2 linked regions of the Homo sapiens genome follow. The protein of the gene in region 1 purifies or fractionates together with the protein of each later gene. This does not show direct contact. Each region holds a gene or a part of one and is shown in the gene's direction. Other genes may lie near its edges.

Region 1 (4,409 bases):
GAAGCCTTAAGGAAGGAAGCAGAGCGCCAGGCATTAGCGCAGCTCGAGAAGGCCAAGGTGAGAAAGATGTGGGGAGGGGCTGTGCTGGCATGATTTCCCCCAGTCCTGGGCTGTAGAGAGAGCCCAGACAGAACCAGGGCCAAGTCTTGACCCAGCCACTTCCTAGTACCCCTGAACCTTGCTCCTCTGTCCTTCACCTGCACAATGTGGGCTATAATACCTGCCTGCTTATACAGTATAATAAGTATAATAAGTGCGTGTTATTATACTGTTTCCACACATAATAAGGGCTTGATAAGTGCTAAAAATTTCTTTTTTTTGTTTTTTGAGTTGCAGTCTTGCTCTGTCACCCAGGCTGGAGTGCAGTGGCATGATCTCGGCTCACTGCAAGCTCCGCCTCCCGGGTTCACGCCATTCTCCTGCCTCAGCCTCCCAAGTAGCCGGGACTATAGGCTCTGGCTGCCACGCCCGGCTAATTTTTTGTATTTTTAGTAGAGACGGGGTTTCACCATGTTAGCCAGGATGGTCTCGATCTCCTGACCTTGTGATCCGCCCCCCTCAGCCTCCCAAAGTGCTGGGATTACAGGCGTGAGCCACCGTGCCTGACCTGGTCCTGACTCTTAATAGCTGTGTGATCTTAGGAAAGTCACATTAAAAGGAAGATAATAATACCACTTAACTTCAGAGGATTTTTTATTTTTGTGATGAATATAAATGAGAGAATATGTGTTAAGTGTGTAACATGGTACCTGGAACACTAAATGGTCATTACTGTCATTATTGTTTTTTTTAATTTAATTTTAGGCCAGGTGCTGTGGCTCACGCCTGTAATCCCAGCACTTTGGGAGGCCCGGTTGGGCGGATCACTTGAGGTCAGGAGTTCGAGACCAGCTTGGGCAATGTGGTGAAACCCCGTCTCTACTAAAAATACAAAACGTAGCTGGGTGTGGTGGTGTACGCCTGTAATCCCAATTACTCGGGAGGCTGAGGCACCAGAATCGCTTGAACTAAGGAGGCGGAGGCTGGAGTGAGCTGAGATCGCACCACTGCACTCCGGCCTGGGTGACAGAGCGAGACTCTGTCTCAAAAAACATAATAATAAATAAATTTAAATATTTATTATTTTTTATGAGACAGGGTCTCTCTCTGTCACTCAGGCTGAGTGTAGCGGCGTGATCACAGCTCACTGGAGCCTTGACCTCCCATCTCAGCCTCCCGAGTACCTGGAACTATAGAGGCATACCACCACACCTGGCTGATTTTTTATTTTTTGTAGAGATGGGATCTTGCTATGTTGCCCAGGCTGGTCTTGAACTCCTGGGTGCAAGTGATCCTCCTGCCTCGGCCTCCCAAAGTGCTAGGATTACAGGCATGGGCCACTGTGCCCAGCCCCTTTTATTTATTTATTTATTTTTGAGATGGAGTCTTGCACTGCCGCCCAGGCTGGGGTACAGTGGTGCGATCTCGGCTCACTGCAGCCTCCGCCTTCCAGGTTCAAGCGATTCTCCTTGCCTCAGCCTCCCAAGTAGCTGGGATTATAGGCGCCCGCCACCATGCCCGGCTAATTTTTTTTTGTATTTTTAGTAGAGATGGGGTTTCACCATGTTGGCCAGGCTGGTCTCAGAACTCCTGACCTGGTGATCTGCCTGCCTCGGCCTCCCAAAGTGCTAGGATTACAGGCGTAAGCCACTGTGCCCAGCTGCCCCTTTTATTTTTTAAAAACCGACAGGGCTGGCTGGGTGCGGTGGCTCACGCCTGTAATCCCGGCACTTTGGGAGGCTGAGGTGGGTGGATCACCTGAGGTCGGGCATTTGAGACCAGCCTGACCAACATGGTGAAACCCCATCTCTACTAAAAATACAAAACTAGCCAGGTGTGATGGCGCATGCCTGTAATCCCAGCTACTTGGGAGGCTGAGGCAGGAGAATTGCTTGAACCAAGGAGGCAGAGGTTGCAGTGAGCCAAGATTGCGCCATTGCACTCCACCATGGGCAACAAGAGCGAAACTCCATCTCAAAACAAAACAAAACAAAACAGACAGGATCTCCCTATATTGCTCAGGCTGGTCTCAGACTCCTTCCCTCAAGCCAGTATTGGGATTACAGGTGTGAGCCACTGTGCCTGGCTGCTATTATTATTATTATTATTATTTTATTTTATTTTATTTTGAGACGGAGTCTTGCTCCATCACCCAAGCTGGAGTGCAATGGCACGATCTTGGCTTGCTGCAACCTCTGCCTCCTAGATTCAAGTGATTCTCCTGCCTCAGCCTCCTGAGTAGCTGGGATTACAGGTGCGTGCCACCACGCCCAGCTAATTTTTATATTTTTAGTAGAGACGGGGTTTCACCATGTTAGCCAGGCTGGTCTCGAACTCCTGACTTCATGATCCACCCACCTTAGCCTTTCAAAGTGCTGGGATTACAGGCATGAGCCATTGCGCCCGGCCTATAACTATTATTTAATTAATTTATTTTGTTTTGTTTTTGAGACGGAGTTTCGCTCTTGTTGCCCGGGCTGGAGTGCAGTGGCACCATCTCAGCTCACTGCAACCTCCACCTCCCAGATTCAAGTGTTTCTCCTGCCTCAGCCTCCCAAGTAGCCAAGATTACAGGCATGTGCCACCACACCATGCTAATTTTGTATTTTTAGTAGAGACAGAGTTTCACCATGTTAGTCATGGCTGGTCTCGAACTTTTGACCTCAAGTGATCCACCTGCCTTGCCCTCCCAAAGTGCTGGGATTACAGCAGTGAGCCACCGTGCCCGGCCTGCTATTATTATTATTTTTTCTGGGTATCATTGTGGGCTTCCCCACCCCCAACCCTTTTCATTCCTGAGTGCCCCGCCTCTACCCTGAGAGGGCTGAATTCCACATTTTGCTTTCTTGTTTTTTATTGTAAAAGTTAATATACATGGAGAAAACCACACAAGCCAATTCAGTATACATTTTTTTTTTTTGACGGAGTCTCACTCTGTCATCCATGCTGGAGTATAGTGGCATGATCTCGGCTCACTGCAACTCTGCTGCCCTGGTTGAAGTAATTCTCCTGCCTCAGCCTTCCAAGTAACTGGGATTACAGGCATCTGCCACTGCGCCCAGCTAATTTTTGTATTTTTAGTAGCGACAGGGTTTCACCATCTTGGCTAGGCTGGTCTTGAACTCCTGACCTCATGAATCCACCTGCCTCTGCCTCCCAAAATGCTGGGATTACAGGCGTGAGCCACCACGCCCAGACTTTTTTTTTTTTAGACAGAGTCTTGCTCCGTCATCCAGGCTGGAGTGCAGTGGTGCCATCTTGGCTCACTGCAACTTCTGCCTCCTGAATTCAAATGATTCTCATGCCTCAGCCCCCTGAGTAGCTGGGATTACAGGTGTGTGCCACCATGCCCAGCTAATTTTTTTGTATTTTTAGTAGAGGCAGAGTTTCACCATGTTGGCCAGGCTGGTCTCAAACGATCCACCTGCCTTGGCCTCCCAAAGTGTCAGTATACATTTTGTTGTTGTTGTTGTTGTTTTGAAATGGAGTCTTGCCCTGTTGCCCAGGCTTGAGTGCAGTGACACAATCTTGGCTCACTGCAACCTCCACCTTCCAGGTTCAAGCAACTCTCCTGCCTCAGCCTCCTGAGTAGCTGGGATTATAGGCACCCACCACCACGCCTGGCTAATTTTGTATTTTTAGTAGAGACGGGGTTTCACCATGTTGTTCAGGCTGGTCTCGGACTCCTGACCTCAGATGATCCACGTACCTTGGCCTCCCAACGTGCTGGAAATACAGGTGTGAGCCACCACACCCTGCCCATGTCCATACACATTTCAAGGAACTATTATAAAGTAAACATCCAAGTAACCACCACTACTGTCAGGAAGTTGTACATTACATTGTGGTTTGCCCTCTAGTTGCCATCCTCCCCTGTGTGCCTCCTCTAGACCAAGCCAGTGGCATTTGCTGTGCGGACAAATGTTGGCTACAATCCGTCTCCAGGGGATGAGGTGCCTGTGCAGGGAGTGGCCATCACCTTCGAGCCCAAAGACTTCCTGCACATCAAGGAGGTGGGTATCTGGAGGGAGGGCAGGGAAGTGGGTGCCAGGAGACAGGCAGCCAGAGTGCTAGTGGACAAAAGGCTTCTGAGCCAAGCAGAGCCAGGCTGAATCTGCTGTGTGACCTTAGACAAATCTCTCCACCTCTCTGAGCCTCTTAATTTTCTACTGGAAAAATGAGGTGGTAATGCTTAGGTCAGAAGGTTGTTGGGAGGGTTTGTTAGGGGGCCTGAACTGGCATGGCGGTGTGCCAGGGACATGTAGGTATCCGCATTTACTCCAGCGGCCTTTGTAGAGTAGGGTGGGCACATGGGGAGAAGGACTCTCAGAATTGCATTGGGCCGGTGGCAGGGTGGTCCATGGCCAGAA
Region 2 (4,236 bases), on another chromosome or scaffold:
TTTAGGAGACTGAGACAGAAGGATCTCTTGAGCCCAGAAGTTCGAGACCAGCCCGGACAACATAGCAAGATTCCATCTCTACAAAAAAAAACAAAACAAAAATTAGCTGGGCATGATGGCGCGCACCTGTAGTCCCAACTACCTTCCGGGCTGAGGCTGGAAAATTGCTTGAATCCGGGAGGTGGAGGTTGCAGTGAGCCGTGATCACACCACTGCACTCCAGCCTGGGCGACAGTGCGAGACTCTGTCTCTCCAAAAAGCAAAACCGAAATACAAAAAACCCTGAAGCCTGCCCATGTCATGGTCCTGCTGGGAACAAGACGATTTCTCTGCTTCCTTCACAGGCATTGACTTGCAAACTTTTTTGCCTCAAAACCTTTGCCCATGCAATTCCCATTTGCCTGGCACCAGGTTCCCTGGGGCTGCCCTTGGAGTTCACAGCTATCGGAGTGGTGGCCCCACAGCACACAGGAACAGGCAAGGCGCAAGGCATAGGGCCTTGGAGGGACGTAGCAGAGGAGGGGACCCAGGCATGGGCTGGAAGCCAAGAGCAGAAGCGCCGAGACTGTGAAGCTGGGGAAGGAGTTGAAGGAAACCGGGGTGAATCTCTGGCTGCATGGACAGAGGCCTGGGTACAGGGCACCTGCAAGGGCAGAGGCGGGGAGGCTGAGCTGGGCCAGCCACGTGCCAGAGCGGTGTCAGCCTTTCTTTGGGACGAGAAAGAGGAGGCGCTGTGGGGTGTTAGGCGTGGGCTCAGAGGGGTTGGGGTGGCGCTCGGGCCAGGCTGGTGGCAGGTGTGTGGCCTGAGTATCTGCAGGATGAGGTTCGATGGTCTAAGAGGGAGAAGCGGGGGCAGCTTTGGGCTTTGGGTTTCTGCGGGTGTCGTTCTGATGTCACCCCACGAGGAGCAGGCCTCTGTGAGTGCACGTTTGGGCCCCGATGGGCTCTGCTCAGCTTTGTGCCGGGGTCTGTGATCGCTGTCACACAGGGGAGGGGGCAGGAGAGGCATGGCGAGTCCTCCACAGTGCCAGAGGGGACCTGCGTGGGGAAGCAGGCGGGGCGCCTGTGTCCAGAGACCCTGGGCTGTGCAGCTTAAAGGGGAATTGTGGCCGAGGGGCCCTGGCTGTGCCGCCCCAGAACCCCCACGGACCAAGCAACGTGAGAGGGGAGTCCGTGCCCCCCCGGACCCCACCCCCTCCTGCGCACGCGGCGCACCTCGGGCTGCAGAGTCGTGAATTCCAGGACACCCCCAGCTGCGTCCCTGGGACCTCAGGACCGGGCGAGGTGAATCGTGCCGATGGGCCGGGGGCGGGGCTCGGCCGCCGCGGCGGGTGCGGGGGGCGGCTCCGCGTGCGGAGTGGGCGCCCGGGAGCGCAGGCTCCGCCCCCCGCCCCGCCGGAAGGGAAGGGGAGGCGGTGGCCGGCGCGGAGCCAGCCAGACCCAGCGGCGAGCGCAGCGGGGGCGGCGGGCCGGGGACCGGGCAGCACCGGGCGCGCGGAGCGGGCGCGCCGCCAACGCGGTCACGTGCGCGGCCCCTCCTCTCGCGCCGGCCTCCCCCGCGCCGCGCTCTCCATTCATAAATTCTCCGCCTGCTCCGCGGCCACCGGGCGCCGGAGCCAGCCGCGAGCGCCACGCAGCCGCCCGCCGCCAGCCCGCCGCCCATGGGCCGCTCGTCCCGGCGCTGAGGTAGGCGCGGCGGGCTCGGGGCTGCGGGGGGCGGACGGGGGACAGGCCGGGGATCGCAGCCGGCTGTGGGCTAAGCGGCCGGAGGGAGGGCGCGGAGGAGTCCGGCGGGCGTGGGGACCGAGATCCGGGCCTTGCGCCCCCCACCCGGCTGCCTCCAGAGGGACCCCCGCTCAGGCCCCGCCCCAGCCTCAGTTTCTCCCTGTGAGGTCGGGCGAGGACGATGGCGTCTCGGCTCAGCCCTGGCGTCGGGTCCCTGCCTCCCCTGGCTCGCCATCCCCACCCTTGGCCGGCTCGGGGGCGCGGTGCTGCCCCGTGGGGAACCTCCGCCCTCGGCTCCCGCAGCCGCCTCCCCCAGGAGCCCCCCTCTTCCCCTCGGCCTCCTGCCATCTTCCCCGGCCTCCGGTCACCATCCTGCGCCTGTCCCCACCCCCTCCAGCCTGAACTCATTTCCCGACCTACATATGCGGCCCCTTCCCCCAGTACCAGGGCCCGGGCAGCCTGTGACCGGGAGCGCTGAGGACACCAGCCCCCGCCGGGACCCTGCCCGGCTTTGGGCCTCAGTTTCCCGCTGTCGCGTGTGGGCGGAAGTCCGGGAAGGGCAGGAGCGGCTGCCGCCTGTGCGCTCCTCTCGCTCCGGGAAAGGTCTCGCGCGTGCGGTGCTGACCTGGGGCCGCCGAGCACCCCGGCGCCAGCCCCGACCCCCTGCGATTCCCGGGCCTCCCCACCCGGCTGCGCCGCACAGCGTCCAGGCGGCTCCTTTCCCTGGTGCCGCGCCCCGCCTCAGTTTCCCCCGAGCGTAAGGCGGCCGGGGATGCTCCGGGCGCCCGGGCTGGGCACGGCGGGGAGGCGGCCGCGGCCATCTTGCGGCTTCGCGCCCGCCCCCCCGAGGCCGCCGCCCCCCCCCAGGCCGCCGCCCCCGCGCCCCCTCCCCGCCGCTCCCTGGCAACCCGCCCCCCCAGCCGCGGCCTGCTCCGCAGTCGCCATGGGAACCAGCTTCTCCGGGGCTGGGAACAGATGCGCCTTCTTTGTCCCTTGCACTCCCACCAGCACTCAGCACCGGGGAGACCTCCACCTCCCGGAGTCGTGACCCGGGAGCACGCGCCCAGCCCCTGCACCCTCCCTGGCGCGCAGGCAGCGGGAGGTCTCCCTCTACCCAACCATGGCCGGGTGGGCCCTGCCAGGGTGTAGCTGAACTTCTTGGGGTGGGGGTAGCCCCCCACCCCCGTGATGGGGCGGACAGGGCGTCTGGAGTCCTTCTCGAGCCGGCTGCACCGCCTTGGCGTCCCCATTCCTCCGAGTGCTTGCCCTGCCCAGCGCTGAGCTCCAGGGCCTGGCGCTACCTTGCAGGACAGGCCGCACCGGCTGTGTGCAGTTGTGATGGGTACAGGCGCACCCTCAGAGGGCCAGGCCTCCTCCCCCGCCATGGGGATGGGAGATGGAGGTCCAGAGAGAGCCCCCGGGGCCCGCTGGGCAGAGCCAAGCCGGGTGGAGGCTGCCTCCGGCTCTGCTACCTCTCCATGAGTCACTGCCCCCTGTGTGGGCTCCTGCTCCTGCAGGGAAGACCCAGCTTGTCTGCAGTGGCTCCTGCAGGAGAAGTAGGTCTAGCTGGAGCTGACCAGGCTTCCTCCCCACAGGGCCCTCCTCCCCAGTTCAGAATGCAGCCCACAGCCACCATGGCCACAGCCGCCACCACCACCACCACCACCACTGCCACAGTAGCCCTGACGACGTCGTGGGACAATGCCACTGGACGCCCCACGGTGGGTGCAGGGGACAGGTGGGAGGGGCAGGAGGTCGTCCAGGCCAGCAGCACCTGACCCCCCCTGCACACCCGCAGGCAGAGCCAGACCCCATCCTGGACAACTACGTGCTGCTGGTGGTGGTGATGTCGCTGTTCGTGGGGGGCACGCTGGTGGTGTTGTCTGGCGTCCTGCTCCTCTGCAAGCGCTGCTGGGACGTCCACCAGCGCCTCAACAGGTGCGAGGCCCCCACCTCGGCTGGGCAGGTGCATGGTGGTTGTGGGTGCCATCGGGTGGTGGGGGGTCTACCTCACTGGCTTCTGAGTCACAGGGTGGGCTATGCCTCTGGAGACTGGGTGATGCGCAGGGCTTGGCTTGGGGCAAAGAGCCGAGACCCACTGTGGCTATCTGGGCCCTCCGTGCCACTGGGCTCTCCCAACGTCTCTCCCAGGGCCATGGAGGAAGCGGAGAAGACCACCACCACCTACCTGGACAACGGCACCCACCCAGCCCAAGGTGAGGTGCTGGCCAGCCTGGCTGTGCGCTCGCCTGTCCATCCGCCCCTCGGCCACCCGCCGCCCCCTCGGGCTGCCTGACCGTCTGTGTCTGTCTGTCTCCCCCACCAGACTGGGCGCAGCTCGATTCCGACTCATCTCTGTTTCCTTAACGCCCAGGCGTAGGTGGGCCCAGGCGCGTGCTGAGCGAGTGAGTGTGTGAGCGGATGGACGAGTGTCCCTCGCCCCGCCAGCCCGGCCGCCCGTGCCGCGGCCCCAGCCCTCCCTGCCGTGGCCGCCCGGAGGAGCAGCCCTCC

Evidence for each region. The genes of interacting proteins can lie anywhere in the genome.
Region 2: the proteins of CACNB1 (region 1) and CBARP purify together in Homo sapiens (co-immunoprecipitation; 3 studies listed by BioGRID and IntAct, with this or other methods). This does not show direct contact.

What each region holds. Positions count from the first base shown.
Region 1 is NC_000017.11:39,187,122-39,191,530, reverse strand, and holds part of CACNB1 (voltage-dependent L-type calcium channel subunit beta-1), read left to right. Parts: coding exon 1-57; intron 58-3,929; coding exon 3,930-4,052; intron 4,053-4,409. UniProt on the Homo sapiens protein: Regulatory subunit of L-type calcium channels. Regulates the activity of L-type calcium channels that contain CACNA1A as pore-forming subunit.
Region 2 is NC_000019.10:1,235,206-1,239,441, reverse strand, and holds the start of CBARP (voltage-dependent calcium channel beta subunit-associated regulatory protein), read left to right. Parts: upstream 1-1,436; 5' UTR 1,437-1,686; intron 1,687-3,320; coding exon of another isoform or gene 3,321-3,341; coding exon 3,342-3,446; intron 3,447-3,523; coding exon 3,524-3,663; intron 3,664-3,876; coding exon 3,877-3,941; intron 3,942-4,051; exon of another isoform or gene 4,052-4,130; intron 4,131-4,236. UniProt on the Homo sapiens protein: Negatively regulates voltage-gated calcium channels by preventing the interaction between their alpha and beta subunits. Thereby, negatively regulates calcium channels activity at the plasma membrane and indirectly inhibits calcium-regulated exocytosis.